Homo sapiens: one gene and its partners. The protein of the gene in region 1 purifies or fractionates together with the protein of each later gene. This does not show direct contact. Each region holds a gene or a part of one and is shown in the gene's direction. Other genes may lie near its edges.

Evidence for each region.
Region 2: the proteins of CDH19 (region 1) and DDX11 purify together in Homo sapiens (affinity purification with mass spectrometry; 2 studies listed by BioGRID and IntAct, with this or other methods). This does not show direct contact.
Region 3: the proteins of CDH19 (region 1) and MARK1 purify together in Homo sapiens (affinity purification with mass spectrometry; 2 studies listed by BioGRID and IntAct, with this or other methods). This does not show direct contact.
Region 4: the proteins of CDH19 (region 1) and YEATS2 purify together in Homo sapiens (affinity purification with mass spectrometry; 2 studies listed by BioGRID and IntAct, with this or other methods). This does not show direct contact.

The regions. Positions count from the first base shown.
Region 1 is NC_000018.10:66,568,894-66,574,296, reverse strand, and holds part of CDH19 (cadherin-19 isoform 1 preproprotein), read left to right. Parts: intron 1-1,980; 5' UTR 1,981-2,092; coding exon 2,093-2,287; intron 2,288-5,403. UniProt on the Homo sapiens protein: Cadherins are calcium-dependent cell adhesion proteins. They preferentially interact with themselves in a homophilic manner in connecting cells; cadherins may thus contribute to the sorting of heterogeneous cell types.
Region 2 is NC_000012.12:31,093,485-31,098,887, forward strand, and holds part of DDX11 (ATP-dependent DNA helicase DDX11), read left to right. Parts: intron 1-1,105; coding exon 1,106-1,150; intron 1,151-1,270; coding exon 1,271-1,338; intron 1,339-2,856; coding exon 2,857-2,895; intron 2,896-3,152; coding exon 3,153-3,261; intron 3,262-3,374; coding exon 3,375-3,506; intron 3,507-4,400; coding exon 4,401-4,513; intron 4,514-4,692; coding exon of another isoform or gene 4,693-4,817; intron 4,818-5,403. UniProt on the Homo sapiens protein: DNA-dependent ATPase and ATP-dependent DNA helicase that participates in various functions in genomic stability, including DNA replication, DNA repair and heterochromatin organization as well as in ribosomal RNA synthesis.
Region 3 is NC_000001.11:220,628,261-220,633,663, forward strand, and holds part of MARK1 (serine/threonine-protein kinase MARK1), read left to right. Parts: intron 1-2,774; coding exon 2,775-2,874; intron 2,875-3,940; coding exon 3,941-4,053; intron 4,054-5,403. UniProt on the Homo sapiens protein: Serine/threonine-protein kinase. Involved in cell polarity and microtubule dynamics regulation. Phosphorylates DCX, MAP2 and MAP4. Phosphorylates the microtubule-associated protein MAPT/TAU.
Region 4 is NC_000003.12:183,804,922-183,810,324, forward strand, and holds part of YEATS2 (YEATS domain-containing protein 2), read left to right. Parts: intron 1-1,944; coding exon 1,945-2,171; exon of another isoform or gene 2,172-3,108; coding exon 3,109-3,183; exon of another isoform or gene 3,184-3,191; intron 3,192-3,808; exon of another isoform or gene 3,809-3,931; intron 3,932-4,175; coding exon 4,176-4,249; intron 4,250-5,097; exon of another isoform or gene 5,098-5,403. UniProt on the Homo sapiens protein: Chromatin reader component of the ATAC complex, a complex with histone acetyltransferase activity on histones H3 and H4. YEATS2 specifically recognizes and binds histone H3 crotonylated at 'Lys-27' (H3K27cr).

The DNA.
Region 1 (5,403 bases):
TGATGAATATTTTATATTACTTCTAATCAAGCCCCTAAACATTTATAAAAAATATGGAGGATAAAGAAACATACTGAATCACACAACAGTGATACAATTAGCAACATTCAGACTATGTGAAACTCTGTAGGACAAATAACCTTGACTCTTCAGCATATAAACGGAAAGAAAAATTGGAGGAAACCTGTAGACCAAATGAGAATTGAGAAATGTACCAAAAAACTGCATTGTGTGGACATATTTAAATCTTAATTCAAAGATAAAGATTTTTAATTTGAACACTGTATGAATATTTTATTATATTAAAATTTTTTCTTAATTTTAAGCTTTGATGTTTAAAAGTGTGTATACACACTTACATAACATGTATACTTGTGTGTGTGTGTGTGTGTGTGTGTGTGTGGCTTCAGTGGTTAAAATGATATGAATTTGAAATTGGTTTTAATATTAAAAAGTGAGCACGTGTAGAAATGACACAATATTGACCATGTGTTGGTAATTACTGAAACAGGGTAATGATATCCAGGTGTTCATTACACTATTTTATTTATCTTTATATGTATCAAAATACCATAATATAAAGTTCCCAAAAATTATATTCACTGAAACACAGCCAGCTAACTTCATATCAGTGTTGGTAATAATTTGCCAAACTTATAAAAAAAATCTTTTTCATGAATAATATTGTACCAGTTCCAAATATTTTTATTCATCAGCTACCAAAAATATATATTTTAGCAATTTCTAAAGAGCAGATTTATCTGAATTTCAAATACGTAACATAAAGATAAATTTCACCTCAGTTGAATTTCTCTATGACCTTCATTAAGTAAACTTTTAACAAGGAATACATCTGCTTAAAGGGAGTATACCGGGACCACAGAATCCCTGTGTACTTTCTTAATTAGGTGTTTTTTAACAACTCCTCTTAACACGAGCCAAAGACCTAAAAAATCTCTAAGGAGTCATTCAAAAATACATGCAGAAGATTCAAAACACAATCATGTAGAAAAAGTCCTAACATGAACTCTGGCTTTTCTGTTGATTATATGACATTAAACTCCATTGTGAATCTTACAAAATTATTTTTCTTCATAAAATAAATCAAATTTGGCTGGATGTAGATGTTGGAAATGCAAAACTATTAAGTTACATATAAGGATTAGAGGTACCCATCATGAAGAGAGAGCCTTGGGTCAATGGAAAGTTTTAAATGTAAAACTCAATAGCCAGAGTCTTTTGTTTTAATATTTAAATACTAGAAGATACATTTCATATCATTCTTACATATTACAAACATTCACCCATTCTTACCCAGGAACAATCATTTTGTATTTATTGTCCTAAGAGGATTTTGTTTTTGTTAAGCTGATAAACACTTCTTCCCCATATCTTTGAAATTAAAAAAGAGTAAATATCTTATGCAAGCTTTCTATTCAGTGTTTTATAGTATCAGTGTAACTGATTATTGAATTCACCAGTTTTAAGCTGAATTGTCATTTTGTCTATTTAATTACTACATAAAATACCATAATTTGGGAAATTGGATGAGGAAGCTTATCTCTATCAAATATAAAAAGGAAAAATAAGACTTTTTTCCTCCTGGATTGACTGTTGCTTTAATGAGATAGTTTGTATTTTACTGAGAAAGAATGGAGAAAGTAAGCAAGTCAAATTAAAAGGAAGTCTATCTCAATGTCAGCTGTCAATCCAGGAGACTCCCAGAGCAATCTTTCAACTTTCAGGCAGATTTATGACTGCAGTTTAAAACTAGCAGTGCCTGAGTGGAAATTTATAATTATTCTAATCAAATTATTGCTGAGCTACAAATCATAATTAGCCAGCTTAATTGGAAGATAAATTAAATGTTTATTTTTATTCCACTTTTGTCAGATGCAGAAGTTGTAACCTGTCTTTAGTAATTATGTGAGAAAATGTTATTTTAAAATGTCAAATTTTGTTTTGTTTCTGACGCTTTAGGTATATAGAAGGTACACAGAATCAGAAAAGATTATAAAAGAAAGCAAGATTTTTGTTAGTGACGTCCTGTTTCCTCTGAAGAGTAATAGTTGGAATCAAAAGAGTCAACGCAATGAACTGTTATTTACTGCTGCGTTTTATGTTGGGAATTCCTCTCCTATGGCCTTGTCTTGGAGCAACAGAAAACTCTCAAACAAAGAAAGTCAAGCAGCCAGTGCGATCTCATTTGAGAGTGAAGCGTGGCTGGGTGTGGAACCAATTTTTTGTACCAGAGGAAATGAATACGACTAGTCATCACATCGGCCAGGTACTTATTTATTTAAAATGTTACAGTAAATAGCACAACAATGTAAATAAATATGTTGGAGAAGTTTGGAGATTTGATGAGTTCCACATTTTTACAGTGAAGCCATTGAAAAGCTTCAAACAGCAGCATCAATAATTGTTTCAGATTTGCAAGCACCTAAAACATCCACTAAAATCTTGAAGAGGGATAGCTCTGGTTTTTAAATTTCACTTCAGTATCCCGTATGAAAATGCAGCCCTCATTTTCAACATCTGGAAACTTTATTGCGTTATTTTTGGTAATGAATCTAAGCAGTCACAGTGAGACAAATATCATTTACCAACAGTATTTAGCCCGATTTTCTGTTACGCTAAGTAGCTGTTGATTTACCCCTCGTTCATTTTTAATGAAGCAGGTTAATACCATATTCTCCTACAGTTAAGTAGCTTCAGGAGCCTACACACTTAAATTGATTAGTAAAGTTAAAGTAAAAGGAATAATTATGTTCACTTTCTTAAAAGAATATATTTTAAGAACAATTCCTTAATGAGACAAAGCATCTCCTATTTATGTTTTTGGCTTGTATTTTATTATTTGGTTTTCTTTAAACAAAGGTGATTACAATATCATGTCCTTTTCCATAAGGCTTTTTCTCTAGATAAATGAACTGAAATAAGTTTAACCGCTAATTAACTGGCACTAAAATTTAATTGGGCCCAAAGGGTGAAGCACTCAAAATTTATTAACTCTCATTTTCTAGCCCTTTCAGGAGAGCTGCAGTGTTAGCATGGTATCTGGATTCCATAGAACTTCACCTGTGTTATCAGCCAAATGTATATGAGTACATTCAACCAAAGCCTTAGATTAGGATTTTAGGCAAGTATTTCCAAACGTGCAGGGAGGAGGGTGTATTGTGAACACACACACACACGCATACACACACACACACATTACAAGAAATATTTCTCAACCCCTTTTATTTTCGACTCAGACTACAGGTAAATAATACGCACAGTTGGCACTAAGAAGGTCCACAGTTAGGTGCCGACTCAGTAACTGAGTCTCTAGCTACCTTTACAGTGGACTGCACAGAACACCATATACTCTCCCATCACTGAATGGGGTGACAGGCTAAAATCAGCTATTGGCTTTTAGTAAATAAGGTGTTATAGGGAAGTGCATCAGTGTAATTGGAACACAGGCCACCTCTGGGGCTGTCACATTTTCTAGTTTGTTTGTTTCTACTCCCCACATGAATCTCTGTTTACCTCCTTTCTCACAGTGATTGGTTTTGCCTATTTTTTCATTTCAGAGACATATTTATGAAACTACTCTGAAAAATGTTTTTCTGCTACACAAACTCATCAGGCTTAAAAAACAAGTGAATCACTGATTTCAAAAAGAACAATAATGAATGTTTAGGTGCTTGTCAAAAGAGTTAGTAAATATACAATTTAGCTGCTGCGTTCAAGATAACTCTCTTTGATCCATTTGTTTGAAAAATGATTAAGATTGGGAAGTACAATTAAGTGAAAATTTGAAGTGATATTTGTTTAGCAAATTGATAGTAGCAGCCTAATTAGGAAAATATTTTTTGAATAAAAATATAGAAAATTGTATAATACTACAGGCCATTTGATTGAAATGTGTTTAACATATGCATTTTATGACATTAAAAGGCTGGTGTTCAAGTAAGCTTTTTCGTTTTTGTTTCTGTCTTCCCTTAAATCTGGGTCTTAAAAATGTCAAGCTTACTTGTCTTTGAAAATTACACTGCACATATACTTGCAATATATTTACTTATTACTAAACTTAATTTATCTTCATTATAATATCAAATAAATTATCAAATCATATTGAAATGATATAATTTAAAAATATGAACCATACATTGCTCACTTGATATATTGATTTGATTGTATAATTTGTTCCTCAATTTCTTACATCATCGCATGAAGAATTTCTTTTAGGAATAATTAAGAACTATCAAAAGAAGTATTACCAGAAAGACAATCTGGATGTTATTTTTCATTACATAGCATTGATATTCGGCATGTTATTAAAATGCAAAATTAGTTACTAGTACCTTCAGATTTTCTCCACAACCGCAAAGAAAGTGTATTAATTTATCCAGTATAAGAAATTATAACTTAAGCCATCAGAAAAATCATGAATTTGTTTACAACTGATTTCATGATTATCTTTGTAAATTTTCAGAGGAACTCTTACTGTGAATAAGAGCATTTTCATAAATGGTGAATCAAGAAAATGTGGATTCACAATGATTAGGGAACCATGACATTCTTCTCTTACATACAAATAATTCTGATATGAAAAGCTATGTGATCATTTTAACTATATCAGAATTAGACGGGTTTTTTTACAGATAAATTAAAAATTCTAAATAATACCTCAACAGTATGAATGATGAACTAATTTACTTTGCTTTTTGAAAATATGAAAATGAGTGCACAGGCTGAAAGTGTGTATTTGAGAATTAGGTAGAATATATTGAGAAGAAAGTTTTATACTTTATGGCTAAAACCCAAGGGCTAAAGAAGATGTAACTGAGTTGTTGTCAGTGGACAGTCTGAAATTTGACAGCCTCATAGAAGATTTGATAGCCTCGTGGTGTAAATTCTATATCTACACAAAGACCATATGACTCTGAAAAAAGTTTGTAAAACAAAATCTCACTTTTCTTCTCTATAGAAAAATTGATCATATCAATAATATGTATTTCATAATATTGATATGAGAATTACTTGAGAACACTAATATAAAGCAATTTATAGATTTTATGACATGTAATAAATACCTAATGAACAGTCAAGATTATCATTATCTTTATGAACCCTAATTTTCATCCTAATATTTTCTTGTTTCCATGTATATTCATGCAAGAGATAGAACATCAGTGTTTAAATGTCACTAAATTGTCTTTCTATCTATCTCAAGGACCCAATCTAGTATAAATATTTGAGAGTATAGTTTTAGTGACTGAGAATTTAATTATAAATAAAAACTGAACCAACTATGTTGTGCATAACTTACAAAAGAAGCTTTATTATCCAATTATTTTTGTTTCTGTTTAGAATAATGAAATGTGTATAGTTCTTTACACTAAATATTCACTC
Region 2 (5,403 bases), on another chromosome or scaffold:
CAGGTGGTTCACCTGAGGTTAGGAGTTTTGAGACCAGCCTGGCCAACATGGTGAAATCCCATCTCTACTAAAAATACAAAAAAATTAGCTGGGAGTGTTGCCGTGGCCTGTAGTCCCAGCTGCTCCAGAGGCTGAGACAAGAGAATTGCTTGCTCAAACCCGGGAGGCGGAGGTTGCAGTGAGCCGAGATTGTGCCACTGCAGTCCAGTCTGGGCGACAGAGTGAGAATCAGTCTCAAAAAAAAAAAAAAAAAAAAAAAAGAAGGGTCTTGGTCATTGATTTAGAAAATTCTTGTTCTTTGTAGCTTAGTTGAGTTGTCTGACTTGAGCTTTATTTAGACCCATGGGTTCTTTGCCCATGTTCTGAGGACTTTTTATTTCAGGCCCTGCTCTGGGGGGATATTAAGGATACAGCATCACATAGACACACGGTGTTTCCGTGATAGGCATAGTTCTGTGGGTTGTTCGAAGCACTTGCATATGCGGTTTTGTGTGCCCTGTGAGAACGCAGTGCTGGTATTTGAATCCTTGTTGATAGACGCATAAACTAGAGCTCGGAGCAAGGGCTGCTCCCAGCACGGGAGCCTGGGATCTTCTGACTCCAGCTCCCACGCCTCTTTGCATGACCCTGTCACGTCCCCTTCTTTTATGATGGGGCACCCCCTTGGAAGGCGTCTGTGGAAGTGGAAGCTGCAGAAAGCCTGTGGGAGCTCCTGGCGGGAGCTGGTCTCGTGTTGCTGCTCTGAGCCACCAGCTCTGCTTTGCCTCAGGCTCACCAGTGGCCTGGGCAGCTCCTCTGTGCTCCGGTGCCCTGCATACCTTGGTCTGGCTGCTGTGTCCCGGCCTCCTGGAGAAGGGGTGAAAAACATGAACTTACAGGGCTTTGGGTTCCACGTGCAAGCACGTGAGTCAGACATGGGAGGCTCCTGGACCCACCTGCCCTCTCAGTGGGTCCGTTGCATGCTATAAACAGTGAAAAGCAAAACAAAGCCATTTAAATACAGATGCTCTTCTTACTTGATGTGCAGTGTGGAGGGAGAGAAGATAGGGAAGGGTTGGGGGTCCTGAGAACCAGCATTGTGACCTATTTCCATTCTCTTTTTTAGGGAACATTAAGCAAAATCCCAATACACAGAGTCTGTCACAGACAGGTAAGAGAGTTGCCCTCAGAGGGCCCAGAGCTGATCTGAGCCACTTCCGAGCTTAACCCTGGGACTGAAACCTGAGGCTTAGGGTGAAGCTCCCAAGGCCCTTCATGTGTTTGTTCTCAGGGACGGAGCTGAAGACCATCAACGACTTTCTCTTCCAGAGCCAGATCGACAACATCAACCTGTTCAAGGTAGAGGTTTCCACCTTTCCACATTCCACATCCAATTTCCTTCCTGTCACCACCTGTGGGTAAAGTACTATGTTAAGACTGTAGAAGGAAGAAAAAGCAAAACAGATGTGTAATTACTTAACCCTTAACGCAACATGCCTGTGAGACAAAAGTCATCTTCTTTTAGAGTGAAGGCCACAGGGATGAGGGATGGGTGAGAAAGGGACCTTTCTTGGTGCCCCATAGAACAGATAGAGACTCCAGGTCCTTGCTCTCTCACTCCGTCTTCTGGCACAGTCTCCCTCAGGCTTATGGACAGGAATAGGACGTTGATTTGTTCTGTGCAACCCCTGTCACGTCTTCCCACTTGGGCCTTGGGTCTGGTTGCAGCCTCAGACCTCTGCTCACTCCAGGTCTGTGTACCCAGCGCTCCCCAGATGAAACACGGCCACTGCCGCCTGAACCCCAAGCTCGTAACTCAAATCAGCAACAGTGACTGCCCCCGGGTACAGGGTTCTGCCTCTGTTGTAGGCGGCATGCCATGTGCTGTGCTCTGAGCTAGGATATCCTTTTGCCCCAGCAAGGAAAGCAAACAGGCCCGTGGAGGTGACTTCAGGAGGGTGGCGAGCACAGGCTTCCCACAAGTGAGCCAATAGCAAGTGGCAGAGACAGCGTCCAAACCTGGCTGCACTGACTTGGGGCCCCACATTCTTCCCATCCTGCCTGCCTTTTTTTTCTTAAAACCAGCTTTTCCCCTGAATTACACATTTGGGTCACTGTCACTGCCGCCATCCCTGCCAGACAGGCTGGATCCAGGTCATCCTTGATGCCTTTCTCCCCTTGTCTCCCACATGCCTGTGACAGCCGCCAGGCCTGACAGCCTGAGACAGTCCTGCCGTCCCTGCGCTTCTCCCACAGCTGGGACATGGGTGCAGGCACTCCTTCTCTCGCCTTCCCTTTGCCCTCCTTGCTTTCCTTCTCCCCTCTTCTTCCCATGGGTCTCGGGTCTCATCACTCACCATTGAGGGAATCCTCATCGAAGGACGTCGCTCTTTTTAGAAACCGGTTTAAAGGCTCCAAACTCCTCATCTCTGCATCCCAAGCTAAGATCTGGCACCAAACCACACACATTGGATGCACCGACTGAGTGGCACTGCCCCAGCCCCTGAGCAGGTCCCAGCCATCATCTCCTCTGTGGCTTTGCTCATAGAAGTTCCTTTTTTTTTTTTAACTCTTTGTCACCTGGAAGGAAAGCCAAGGGGAACTGGATTTTACTGAGCACTCTTAGACTTGAGAGAGACATTTGGAAAGAGGGTCTCCACCCTGAGGAGGACACTGCGTTGTGGGCAGGGGCAGTAGAGGAGGGGGTGGCCTCGGAGAGGAGATGACAAGGTTGGTGGCAAGGAGGCTCCAGGTGCCTCAGAAGGTAGCACTGCGTTGTGCTGCCTGGGTGGTAGAAGTGGTGTTTTTTGTTTTGTTTTTAAGATTATAGCTTGCTCAGTTTGCACTCATGCCTACAGCTGGGCTTGGTTTTTGCAGGTGCAGCGATACTGTGAGAAGAGCATGATCAGCAGAAAGGTAACTGCTCCCATCTTGTGGTCCTGAACAAGACCCAGCTGTGCCCCAACCCCCTGCCCTTGCCATGCTTTCCTCCCCTGCCCTCAGGGAACTCCAGAGTCCCCTTCGTCTCCACTCTCCTTGGTGCAGTGGGCCTTGCTGGGGTGGTGGGATGTGTGCTGCAGGTGTCTTGGGCCTGGCAGAGCCTCCGATCCACCCAGCCTCTCTCTCATGGCTGTACCTCGTTCCTCTCCACTGCTCTCTCTCATCCCACCCAGCTCTTTGGATTCACTGAACGGTACGGAGCAGTGTTCTCATCCCGGGAGCAGCCCAAACTGGCTGGGTTTCAGCAATTCCTGCAGAGCCTGCAGCCCAGGACGACTGAAGGTGAGGCAGGAGGGTGGGCAGGCAGAGCCGGCTGCACGCATGGGCAAGGACTTCTGTTCCTCATGTGTGGACCTGACCAGAGGGAGGCCTCCTCCCCGTTCTGCTCTGTGCAGCTCTTGCAGCCCCTGCAGACGAGAGTCAGGCCAGCACCCTGCGACCAGCTTCTCCACTGATGCACATCCAAGGCTTCCTGGCAGCTCTCACTACGGCCAACCAGGACGGCAGGGTCATCCTGAGCCGCCAAGGTAATCAGGTGGTTCTTGGCCAGGTTCAGTTCCCAGGAAGGAGCCAAGCTGAGCCCGGGAGCCGCAGCGTGAAAGGATTCTTTCCTTCCATCCTGGGAACTTCCTGGGTTAGGAGGAAGCAGTGCAGTGGGCACTGGCCTGCTGTGACCTGGGCAAGCAGTGGAGGTGGATGGGAGGAGATCGAAGGGCTGGGATGGGGGTCCCGTGACCAGGGTAAGCAGTGGAGGTGGACGGGAGGAGATCGAGGAGCTGGGATGGGGGTCCTCTAGGGCAGGGGTCCTAGGGAAACTTCTACTGTGGGGTAGGTGGGCTTTGGTTTGGGTCATGATTTTGTCATCTATGAGCCTTGTGATTTGGACTATTTTCTTTCTCAACTTCAGTTTCTTCATATGAAAATGGAGAGGATAGGCCGGGCGCGGTGGCTCACGCCTATAATCCCAGCACTTTGGGAGGCTGAGGGGGGGCGGATCGTGAGTTCAGGAGATCGAGACCATCCTGGCTAACACAGTGAAACCCCGTCTCTACTAAAAATACAAAAAATTAGCAGGGTGTGGTGGTGGGTGCCTGTAGTCCCAGCTACTCGGGAGGCTGAGGCAGGAAAATTGCTTGAACCCAGGAGGCGGAGGTTGCAGGGAGCCGAGATTGAGCCACTGCACTCCAGCCTGGGCAACAGATCGAGACTCCATCTCAAAAAAAAAAAAAAAAAAGGATGGAGAGGACAGTGTGGTCCACCTCTGTGGGCTGGTTGTCCTAGAGATTAAATGGTGTTTAATTTAAAGAGAAAGCACTAGCACTTGTGCCTCAGACCTGGACTCACCTGGGGGACCCCCTTTGCTGGGACGACAGAAGTGTCTGTTGGGCTTGCACTCACCTCCCACCGATCTGTTTTTCCAGGCAGCCTCAGTCAGAGCACCCTGAAGTTTTTGCTCCTGAATCCAGCTGTGCACTTTGCCCAAGTGGTGAAGGAATGCCGGGCAGTGGTCATTGCGGGGGGTACCATGCAGCCGGTAAGGACACCTTTCCCAGCCCCTCGTGCCCCAGGTGTTGGGATGAGATGGGGGCTTGGGAGAGATGCATTATCAGTCCTGTTCTCTCCTGGGGCCCCAAGCCAGAAAGGGTCAGCTCGAGCAGGCCCAGTGGTGTCCGCTGGGTGACACTGCTATTCTCTCACTGCTGTGCCTTTTAGGCTGCAGGAGCAGTGGAGACTCCTCTGCTGCTCCATTCTGTAGCCCCAGGATCACATGTCTCCCAGAGAAAGCTGTTCTGTGGTTTCAAACTCAAGGAAAAAAATCATGATTCCACTTTTAAAAGGTTCATTTTGATGTATATGAATATAATAGTCTTTGTAGGCGTAATTTTTACTTATGTGCATAGCTGTTTTAAAAACAAAAGTACGGCTCCCTCCATGTGCTGTCACTGGAACTTGCTCTTTTCACTCAGCAGCCAGAGGGTCATAAACCCTGTCTCCTTGTCAGCAAGCATGCACGTATTTCAGTATCCCAGCTGTGCTGGATTCCAGTTACACAGATATATAGCATTTCATGTAGCTGCTTCTCTCTTGTTAGGTGTGCAAGCTATTTGCAGTTTTCTGTTTTGAGCATGACTGTGATAAATATAACCGCATTTCTGCACAGTGGTGACTCCTACCTAGCGAAGGGCCTCCTGGACAAAAAGCTGCTGGGAATCCTGAAGCAGTGCTTCCCAGCCCCAGCTGCCTTAGCTTTTGATTTTTATATTTTTGTATGGATAGATTCATAGTTTTATTCATTCGGCATATTAAAAGTTGTTTACAGTAATTATTGTTTCTGACGTTCACATTGTGAGAGCCCCTTCCTGCTAGCTCAGGTCCTCCCCGTGGCCCGGTCAGTCTCGCCTCCAGCACAGCAGAATGTCATGG
Region 3 (5,403 bases), on another chromosome or scaffold:
CTTCCACTAAAAAAGGCATCCTTCAACCTGGCAATCCCCTTTCAGTGCTGCCATCTTGCTCCTCCTTTGTAGTGAGCCCTTTTGAAGAGTATCTACACTTAAACCATCACCCATTCCTCACCAATCCATTTACTTTCTGGTTCCTAGTGCCACCACTCCACTGAAACTTCCCCCAGCAAAGTCCCCCATCTCTGTTGCTAAACACAAGGGGCTACTTATTTAGGCGTCACCTTATTTGACCATTTGGCTATATTTGACAGGACTCTCCTCTTCGAACTCTTTCCTCGCCTTCCATGTCATGCTGTGCGGGTTTTTCTTCTTGGATTTCTTTTCTTTCTAACCTTTAAATACTAGTGTTCCTTGAGGCTGTAATCTGAGCCCTCTTCTATTCATTCTTACACTATTCATTCTTCCTGGAGAATCGCACCCACCCCACAACTTTTGTACAGCATCCTCTGTAGGCTAAGGATTCCTGAGTCTCAATCCCTAGCCTTCCAAGAAAATATGAATTCTCTAGAAAGTTTAATTTAAAAATGTATCATGTGGCTGGGCATGGTGGCTCATGCCTATAATCCCAGCACTTTGGGAAGCCGAGGCAAGCAGATAACTTGAACCCAAGAGTTCAAGCCTGGGCAACATAGTGAGACCCTGTCTTTAAAAAAAAAAAAAAAAATCATGTGATGATGACTGCTGGAAAAGCCTCCAATCCAGCACAGCAGTATTCTTAAGAGATTCCAGTTGTTAGAGATCTTCCCTGGATTTCTTATTTTCTGGTGATTAGCTTTAGGTAGATATTAATAAATGAGGGGAAGGTACCTGGGCAGTCAAGAAATTAGCCTTCAAAAGATATATATATGGGAAGTTATTTTTCTAATTAGTGGAATATTGGCAAGTAAAGTTTAAAGATGGAGAATGTACTTTACAGGACCTGGAAAAAGCAATTAATATATCAGCACCTAAAATGAAAACCTAAAATTCTGTAGTAATAAAAAGTGAACAATCTTTCTAAATTAATACAGAATTATTCAAATAAGTTTCTTCCAGTTTTCCATTGCCTGACCATGAGTATAGTAAATTCTCTACAAGATTGCCTTTTTTTTTTTTTTTTGGTGGTGGTGGTGGTAAAAAACACGTAACATATATTTACCCTCAACAACTTCTAAGTGTGTATCACAGTGTCGTTAACTATGTGTACATTGTTGTACAACAGATCTCCAGAACTTTTTCATCTTGTGTGACTAAAACTCTGTACTCATTGAACAAATCCCCATTTCTCCCTCATCAGCCCCAGCAATCACCATTCATCTTGTGTGACTAAAACTCTGTACTCATTGAACAAATCACCATTTCCCCCTCATCAGCCCCAGCAATCACCATTCTATTATACTTTATGTTCCTATGAGTTTAACTACTTTAGATAATCTGTATAAGTAGAATCATGCAGTATTTGTCTTCTGTGATTGGCTTATTTCACTTAGCATAATGTCCTCAAGGTTCATCCATGTTGTAACATATAACAGGATTTTTTTTAAGGCTGAATAATATTTATTTGTATTTATGTACCACATTTTCTTTATCAATTCATTTGTCAATGGACATTTAGGTTCCTTCCACATCCTGGCTTTTGTGACTAATGCTGCAGTGAATATAAGTTTCTGAATATCTCTTTGATATTCTGCTTTCAGTTTTTTTGGATAAATACCCAGAAGTGGGATTACTGGATCATATGGTAGTTCTATTTTTAATTTTTTGAGGAACCTCTGTACTATTTTCCATAGCAGCTGCACCATTTTAGATTCCTGCCAGCAGTTCACAGGGGTTTCAGTTTCTCCACATGCTCACCAACACTTGTTTCTTGTTTTTTTGATAGTGGCCATCCTAATGAGTATAAGGTGATAGCTCACTATGGTTTTGAGTTCCCTGATGACTAGTGATGTTGAGCATCTTTTCACACAGCAAGCATGCTTGTTGGCCACTTATGTATCTTTTTTGGAGAAATATCTGTTAATTACTTTGCCCATTTTTTATTCAGGTTATTTGTTTTGATGTTATTGAGTTGCAGGCATTCTTTACATATTCTGAATATTTACTCCTCATCCAGTATATGTTTTGCAAATATTTTTCCCATTCTCTAGTTGGCCCCCACAAGGTTGCCTTTTAACAGCCCAGGACTGTCTGTTATTTCACAGCCTTAGCTTAATCTGACTCTGGTAATTCACATCAACCCCAGCTTGATTCTTACCTAATTCCTAACTCTAGACTTAAATTTTGACTGCCTTCCCTTCCCACATTATCTTAGCTATCTTTATTGATAGCTTTACTGCCAACCCTGATTTTCATTCCCCATGACCTCTTCTTTACTAATATTTTAGTAAATGATGATTTTAAAATAAGGCATATATTTGGCATAAAACAGGAAAAAATTATAATCTCTGTATTAATCTTAAATGTAAAAATCTGAAACAGAAGTTAAAATCTGTTTTATAAGAAGTAAATTCTTATGTTAAAATATCCAAATTTGAAAATATTCCCTTTGAAGGAATAAGAGAGGCATGCTATTTTGAATCAATGCATTTGGTGAGTGTGTAGGGAGATAGTCATAGTTGTTGTGTGTGTCCCAAAGTCTTACACCTCTTTTTGGCCCACTAATCAAACTAGAAATGTCACATGAAACTTCTTGAGTGAACTAGTAATTTTACATTTGCTAAAATAGAGCTATAATAAGTGGCTGAATGTTCTGATTGACCACACATAATGTAGAGTTTATTTCCTAGCAAATAATGAAAGATCGATGGATGAATGTTGGTCATGAAGAGGAAGAACTAAAGCCATATACTGAGCCTGATCCGGATTTCAATGACACAAAAAGAATAGGTAAGTATTTAAACATGGTAAGAAGTGCTGTCCCTAGGCAACAAGTAAGAGTCCTTTAGTGTGCCAAAATAGTGTTTAAGAGTATAAATAGGAAGCAATTTTTATTTGAAAAATACTTGCATTGTCATTTTAATGATAATATGCTGAAAATTATACATTTCAAGTTCCCTAATTTGTTCCCATATATATTATGGTCTAATTCAATGTTTGACAACAGTGATATAAAACCTAATGTAAATAAATCGAATTCTTTCCTTTCAGTGATGCCCAGCAGGAGGAATGGCTGATGTAACTATCAGCACTGATCAGACTGATAAGCATCAGCGAACATAGCATGTATTTTAACCAAAGACATAGAGGCACCGAATTAAGAGTTGAACACTTTGGCTCTCCCTTTCTTTTTCCACTGTCTTAGCAATGTTTATTCTCCCTCCTCACTCGTCCTGCTACTGCCCATACCCAACCAGAGCTCTCCTTCTAACTTGTTCTCTTCATTTCACAATCCCTTCCCAAAGCCATCATTTAGTCTCAGCTGAGTCATCTCAACTGTGTTCCTATCTGGCTTGAGGGCAGAGTGGCAGGGGAGAGCATTTTAGGGTGTTAGGAACCTGATCAGAAAAACCATGGAAATTCAAATCTCCCAAAGAAGAGTCAACCTACTGCAAATCAGAAAGCAGAAAATTTTAAGAGATGAAAGAAACCACTTCACTAGTAGCTGAGGACGAATTGAGAGAAAGACAGAGAATTTTGTGTGTAACAAAGACTGACATGGTCTTAGACTGGACAAAGAAAGTTAGCTCAGGAATGTATTAGGCAATGAGAAATTAAGTGGGCCCATTAATATATTAACCATGATGTAGGTAATTTCTGCATGTAAAATTATCATTGTACAATATCTGTGAACATATGGTATCCGTAGGTTAATAGTCCAGAAGTTTTTAAAACTACACTTTAAATTTTCATGACTAAGTTTTCATATTCAAAGATGGCAAACTTGCCCATTTTTGTTGATTTGTTTACGAAAATAAAACCATTTTCAGAAAATTTCTCTTTTTTAAATTTCTAGACATTATGGTCACCATGGGCTTTGCACGAGATGAAATAAATGATGCCTTAATAAATCAGAAGTATGATGAAGTTATGGCTACTTATATTCTTCTAGGTAGAAAACCACCTGAAGTAAGTTTTTCACCTTTTCAGATTACTGTGAATTATTTCTTGAGCTAATATATTAGTTAATATATTCTTTGTGGAATCAAAAATAATATAAAGATCCTACCCTAACATTCTTATTTATTGGAATTCAAAAATCAAGATGTTAAATTATGAACTGGTTGTATTTCTGGGTACCAAGAGAGATTTTATGAAAGAATAGGTCTACTGTCTTTCTTAGCTCCAAGAGCCACCATTCACAGCCTGGCCTTTGAGAATGGCCTCCCACACAGCTTGTGCATCCAAATGTAACAGTCCCACCAAAGGTAATATGGTTATTCCAAGTGTGCAGAAAAGACAGTGAGTGAAACATGAGGAAGTGATAGCATTTAAAATAAAATGTATGTCTTAAAGGATTTTTAAAAGAGGTAACTCCAGGAAAGGTTATTTGATGATATTTTGCCTTATAAAGTGTCAAGTGACTGATGCTTTCAATTGGGAATTCTCAAGGCCAGGAGAACTATAATAAGGAGATGGATTCAGGAAATAACTGCATACAAATGGTGAACTATGTTAGTCAGTTTTGCATTGCTATAAAGAAGTACCTGAGACTGGGTAATTTATAAAGTAAAGAAGTTTATTTGACTCACAGTACTGCAGGCTGTACACAAAGCATAGTGTTGGCATCTGCTTCTGGTAAGGGCCTCAGGAAGCTTACAGACATGATGGAAGGTGAGGGGGAGCCAGCATGTCACATGGCAAGAGGGAACAGGTGAGAGGTGGGGGAGGTGCCACGCTCTTTTAAATAACCAGATCTAGCGTGAACCCGTAAAGGGAGAACTTGTTACCACGAGGGCAGCACCAGGCCATTCATGAAGTGTCCACCTTCCTGACTCAAATACCTCCCTCTAGGCCCACTCCAACATTGGAGGTCACACTTCAACATGAGATTTGGAGGGGACAGAGCATCCAAACCATATCATGAAGCATAAAAGCAATGATTCTTTAGGAAAACAAATATAAAGGCTATACATCGAGAGTCAAGAACAGATCGCAGAGCATTAACAATTTATTGGAAGTTAGACATCTGTGGGAGGTATTTTAGAGAGAAAAAGCTGAAATTATTTATAATTCCGTAGTAACTGTTAATGGAGCAGTGCATTCCAGCTGACATATATTGAACCTTTATTGTACCAGAAACGATGCTGTGTACTGTGAATAGAAGGACGAGAAAGTCTCTGCTCTCAAGGAGCCCTTAGTCTAGAGACGAGGTGAGCAGTTAATAGTATGGTACAGTATGTGTTCTGATTTGGGGGATGCACAGCATACTCTGGGAGCATATAGGTGGACATGTACCTACAACAGGCTAAGGTCAGA
Region 4 (5,403 bases), on another chromosome or scaffold:
GAGCTTGCAGTGAGCCGAGATTGCACCAGTGCACTCCAGCCTGGGCAACAGAGCAAGACTCCGTCTCAAAAAAAAAACCACACACACAAAAAAAACAGACCACTGCTGCAGGGCCATGGGGTGTAGGAGCAAGGGATTAAAGGTATATAGGCAGAAGAAGCATTTTGAGTTTCACCTCAAAGAATAAGAAGGGTTGGGCCGGGCGTAGTGGCTCATGCCCGTAATCCCAGCACTTTGGGAGTCAAGGCAGGAGGATCACTTGAGCCCCTAGGAGTTTGAGACCAGCCAGGGCAACATAGCAGGACCTTGTCGCTACAAAAATTACAAAAATTACCCGGGTGTGGTAGCTCGCCTGTAGTCCCAGCTACTTGGGTGACTAAGGTGAGAGGGATCACTTGAGCCCGGGAGGTTGAGGCTGCAGTAAGCCATGAGCACACCACTGCACTCCAGCCTGGGCAACAGAGCCAGGCCCTGTCTCAATAAAATAAAAAGAAAAGTTGTTCTCTGCCCCCAGCCCCATTTATATAGAAAAACAGAAGCTCCACCCCTCCTGTCCAAGGAAACCTGGAGCACAGAGGTGGGGTTACTTTAAGACTTAGGGCCGGGCTCAGTGGCCTCCCACTTTGGGAGGCTGAGGCAGGAGGATTGTTTGAGCCCAAGAGTTCAAGACCAGCCTGGACAACACGGTGAAACCTTGCCTCTACAAAAAATGCAAAAATTAGCCGGGCATGGTGGTGCATGCCTGTAGTCCCACCTATTCGGGAAGCTGAGGAGGGAGGATTGCTTGAGCCCAAGAAGTTGAGGCTGCAGCGAGCTGTAATCATGCCACTCCTCTCCAGCTTGGGTGACAGCGCAAAACCCTGTCCAAAAAAAAAAGGGGGGGCAAGTCCCAGTTTTGCCATTAAGCTTCTTGAGAGCCTAATGCAGGATGGCCTCTCCTTTCTCTCATCTCCTGCAGCGCTTAATATCAACAGCATGAGGGCTTGTCTGACTTCGCTGTGTAAGCTACTCGGAGAGCAGAGACCGTGTTAATGATCCCCGGGCTTCACTGACATTGTGTGGAAAGCACAGTACTTGCACATACTAGGCTTCCTTTTAATCTGACTGATTCCAAACGGCCCCTAACCTACAATGGTTTGACCTGTGATTTGATGTTGTGACTTTACAATGGTCTGAAAGCTGTAGGCATCAGCACATACCTTGACTTACGATGGCCTTGTCCAGATAAGGCCATCGTAAGTTGAAAATATCCTAAGTCAAAAATGATATTTTCAACTTACGATGGGTTTTTCAGGATATAGCCCCAGCCATCATAACTTGAGGAGCAGCTGGAGCTTGTTAGAGCCCAGTCAGTAAAACAAAAGGCCAGGAGCTGGGTGCCCTTAAATCTTGTACCTGGTGTGGACCTCACACACTCATCCAGAAAGTGGAAGGGCACTAGTGCCCTAGATCTGGCCTTGAGGTCCTCACACTCCTGATTAGGTTTTGTATAAATCACCTTATTAGAGACTGGACCCATAATATACATTGAAATGTTAACAGTCCTGCTCTCTGAGCAGTGAGAATAGGGGTGATTCTTTTTATTTTCTTCACTCTGCATTTCTAAATTTTCCAGATTTGAGATGAGGAAAAATCAGGTCAGTCCTTAATACTCAGAGGGAGGGGGATGACCTGGTTTTTGGTGGCAGAAGTGAGAATTCCTACTCTTTCATCTTAGATGGCAGTTACCTTACATAGATCACACACAAGATGCCTGTGTTTATGCCTTTCTCCCTCGTGAATTACTAGTTCTCATCATTATAGATCCATAGAATGTTAGAACTGGAAAGAAGGTCAGCTCCCCTGATGCTTATCCCCCTTCCTCAGACCATGGGTCTCTTGGAGACGGAAAGTCCTCTTCCGTTGGCCCCACAGCTGTTGTAACACTGCTTGCCTGTCATTTAGAGTGCCCATCATCATTCTCCTCTGCTGACAACCTCTGCCGCAAACTGGAGGACCTGCAACAGTTCCAGAAAAGGGAACCCGAGAATGAGGAGGAGGTGGACATCCTCAGCCTCTCCGAGCCAGTGAAGATAAACATCAAGAAGGAGCAGGAAGAGAAACAAGAGGAAGTCAAGTTCTACCTGCCACCAACCCCAGGGTCTGAATTTATTGGGGATGTCACACAGAAGGTAGGGGTTGTGGTGTTAATAGTTCATGCAGCAGACCAGCTCAGAGCTAGATGTTCAGACGTTCAGCTTCACAGACCCAGACCCAGGTGTTCAGCCTCACAGACACAGACTCAGACCCAGACTCTTCTGGTGCCGTAGATGCTTGACTTCCTTCTGCCTGGTTGACCCAGGTGTGCTCTCAGGGCTCCCACCGTCCCACATCAGAGCCCTTGGGCAGAAATGCTAATTACATGTGAAAACATTGCTTGTTGAACGCAGACGTGAAGCAAAGCTGGCTAGATAGAAATGGTTGATTACTCTTCATCTTGTTTTTCTCATCTGCCTCAGTAGAAGCACCTTTCCCTCATGAGGCACGTCGTACTCTTTCTGAGTTGCACGTCAGCGCGTAATCCTCCCCTGATGTGTTGATAGCTCCTGAGTGCCCCGCCTGTGGTGCAGATGGCGTGCACCTGCCTTACTATACAGGAGAGAGGTATTTATCCACCCTGCTGGAGCCTAACAGCTCTTCAGCATCTGCCAGTTGCTCAGGGCCCAAGGTGAAAGACAGTGTGCTTTCATTGGATGCCATGAAGAATGGGCAAGATGCAGTTTCCAAGTGCAAACAGGACGTTGGAGTCTGATTCCAGACCTTTCAAAGTGTTGATTGCGTATCAGAACCCAGGCAGATCCCAACCATGTTCTCCCACGAAGGAGATTTGAGAGATTTTAATAGGATTATAGTCATATTTTAAATATCAGCCAGAAATGTGGAAAAACAAGATAACATTCTTCTAGATGTTATATTCCGTGTTCCTTTCCCGTGAATTTTGCCCAATATGTTTGCAGAGTCCTCCTTCCAACCAGGCATCGCTTTGCATGTCAGGGAGGTATGCTTGTTTGGAGAGAGGCTGTTTCTAAAGCAGCGATACGAACAAACGGCTTTCTTCTGCTTTTCCAGATTGGGATCACCCTGCAGCCCGTGGCACTCCACAGGAACGTGTATGCGTCCGTGGTGGAGGACATGATCCTGAAGGTGGGTGCCTGCAGGGGCCGCCAGCCAGGAAGGATGGTTGCATCCCAGGCGGTTTGGAGTAAGGGGCAAGGACAGAAAAGGAACAAAGATAACAGGCTTTAAAATGTCTCGTCTTATTTGGGCTTAAGTTCTCTCTTTTTGTTTTTTTGTTTTTTTTCCTTCTGATTTTTAAATGGACTAAGTTATGTTTCCTCTGAGTCATGTGGTTTCAGGTGCCTCCTAAGACGTATTCTGGGGGTGGTGGTCAGTGTGCTCGTTGCTTTAGGAGGTGGCAGAGACAAAGCCTATGGTTTTCTGTACACGTCACAACAGCAAACAGCCCCAACTGTCCTGACCCTGGCAAGGGGACGAAAATGCCGCAGCCTCCTTCCCCAGCCTGATCCTAGCTCAGCAGTTCCTTTCCTCGTGGATCCTCTCCAAGAATAGGGATACCTCCGTAACAACTGCTTTCCTTAAATACAATGTCTAGGGCTGGGCGCGGTGGCTCATGCCTGTAATCTCAGCACTTTGGGAGGCCGAGGCGGGTGGATCATTTGCAATCAGGAGTTGGAGACCAGCCTGGCCAACATGGTGAAACCCCATCTCTACTAAAAATAAAAAATTAGCTGGGCTTGGTGGCGCTCACCTGGTAATCCCAGCTACTTGGGAGGCTGAGGCAGGAGAATCGCTTGAACCCGGGAGGCGGAGGTTGCACTGAGCCAAGATCGCGCCACTGCGCTCCAGCCTGGGCGCGAGAGTGAGACTCCATCTCAAAATAAATAAATAAATAGAATAATGTCTGATTAATGAAAATCACTCCAATTCATAATTTCTCAGAATCATGGCCTTTATCATTATGGTCTATTATTGAGGCCTTTAATTTTTTCTTAAGGACTTTTTAATCCCTAGTTGCAGTGGTTTCAAACATTTGGGGTAAGGGATGGGGTTAAATGTGTCCCTTCTTGCCAGCAAGCAGATGGCCATTTGAAGAATAACAGCATCTTCCATTGTAGGCTACAGAACAGCTGGTGAATGATATCCTGAGACAGGCTTTGGCAGTTGGATACCAGACAGCTTCTCACAACAGGTATTACTATCTCTGCAGTCTGTGGTGTGAGGCTTACACCTCTTTCCTAACAGTTGAATTGCCCATGAAGGTGTTTTATACTTACATCAATCCAGTAGGAGATGGAGTGAGTGCTTAGGACACTCTTAGAGCCAGATGAGCTCAAGGGTCTGCTTTGTCATTTTTAGAGAACCTCATGGTTGTGAAAGCTCACTCAGCTTTGCTCAGAGGTTTATATCCTCCTCATTACTTCACAGACACCTAGGACTCTGTTTTATTACAGGGTTGAATAAATATTAGCTTTGCAATTAAAGATAACAGTGTCCATTACATGTCAGACACGAGGGCCAAGCGTTGCATATATTACCTAATTTGTTTTTCATTGCAGAACTATTATTCTCTTTTTAAAAATCAGGAAACCGGGCTTTGAAAGGTAATTTTACCCAGCTTACCCAGCAAATACAGTGTAGACCTGGACTTCCGACTCAGGTCTCATTGGCTCTGAGGCCCCTGGGCTCGCCACTGCTCTTTGCTGACTCGTTGTCTTTGATTAAGACACTGAGTTTCAGTCTGTTCCTAGGCCCTGAAAGGATGGTAGATAGGCCACATCTGCTTTTCTTTCGGAGGAAACAAATATTATTTTATTGCATTATGCTAAAGGCTGTCACAGATTTATAAAATTGTAGCAAAGTGCCTGAGGACATGAAGGGCCTAAATCAGAGGAATAGTAGATGAAACTTCACAGGAATATATCAGACAACATAGGCGTCTTTAGAGAAAAGGAAGGGGAACCAAGAGTTCCGGTCCTGCTGCCCACTGTCCTGCTTGGACCCACAAGTGAGCCAGGGCCTCCTGTGGCCCCTGCTTACCTCTGTGCTCCCTGTCCTGGAGGGGTAGAGTGACTTAGGTGCTTTTGATGGAACGATTAACATCACGCCTGGCCTGGCGTGGCTCCGTCTCCCGTCTTTCTAGGAGATGGGAAATAAGGTCCCAGAGTTTTGTGGTGCTTTGACTCAGCTTTCGGTCTGCTGAGACTCACTCACAAATGTGTCATTCCGTTCTGCCATCCGCTTTGTTTTCTTTCTCTTTTCTCAGTTCTCAGAATCTTTTTTCCTAATTATTCAACCAACTTGTTGACATCCTTCTCATGCCTATGACAGGAAGGCAGTCCTCAC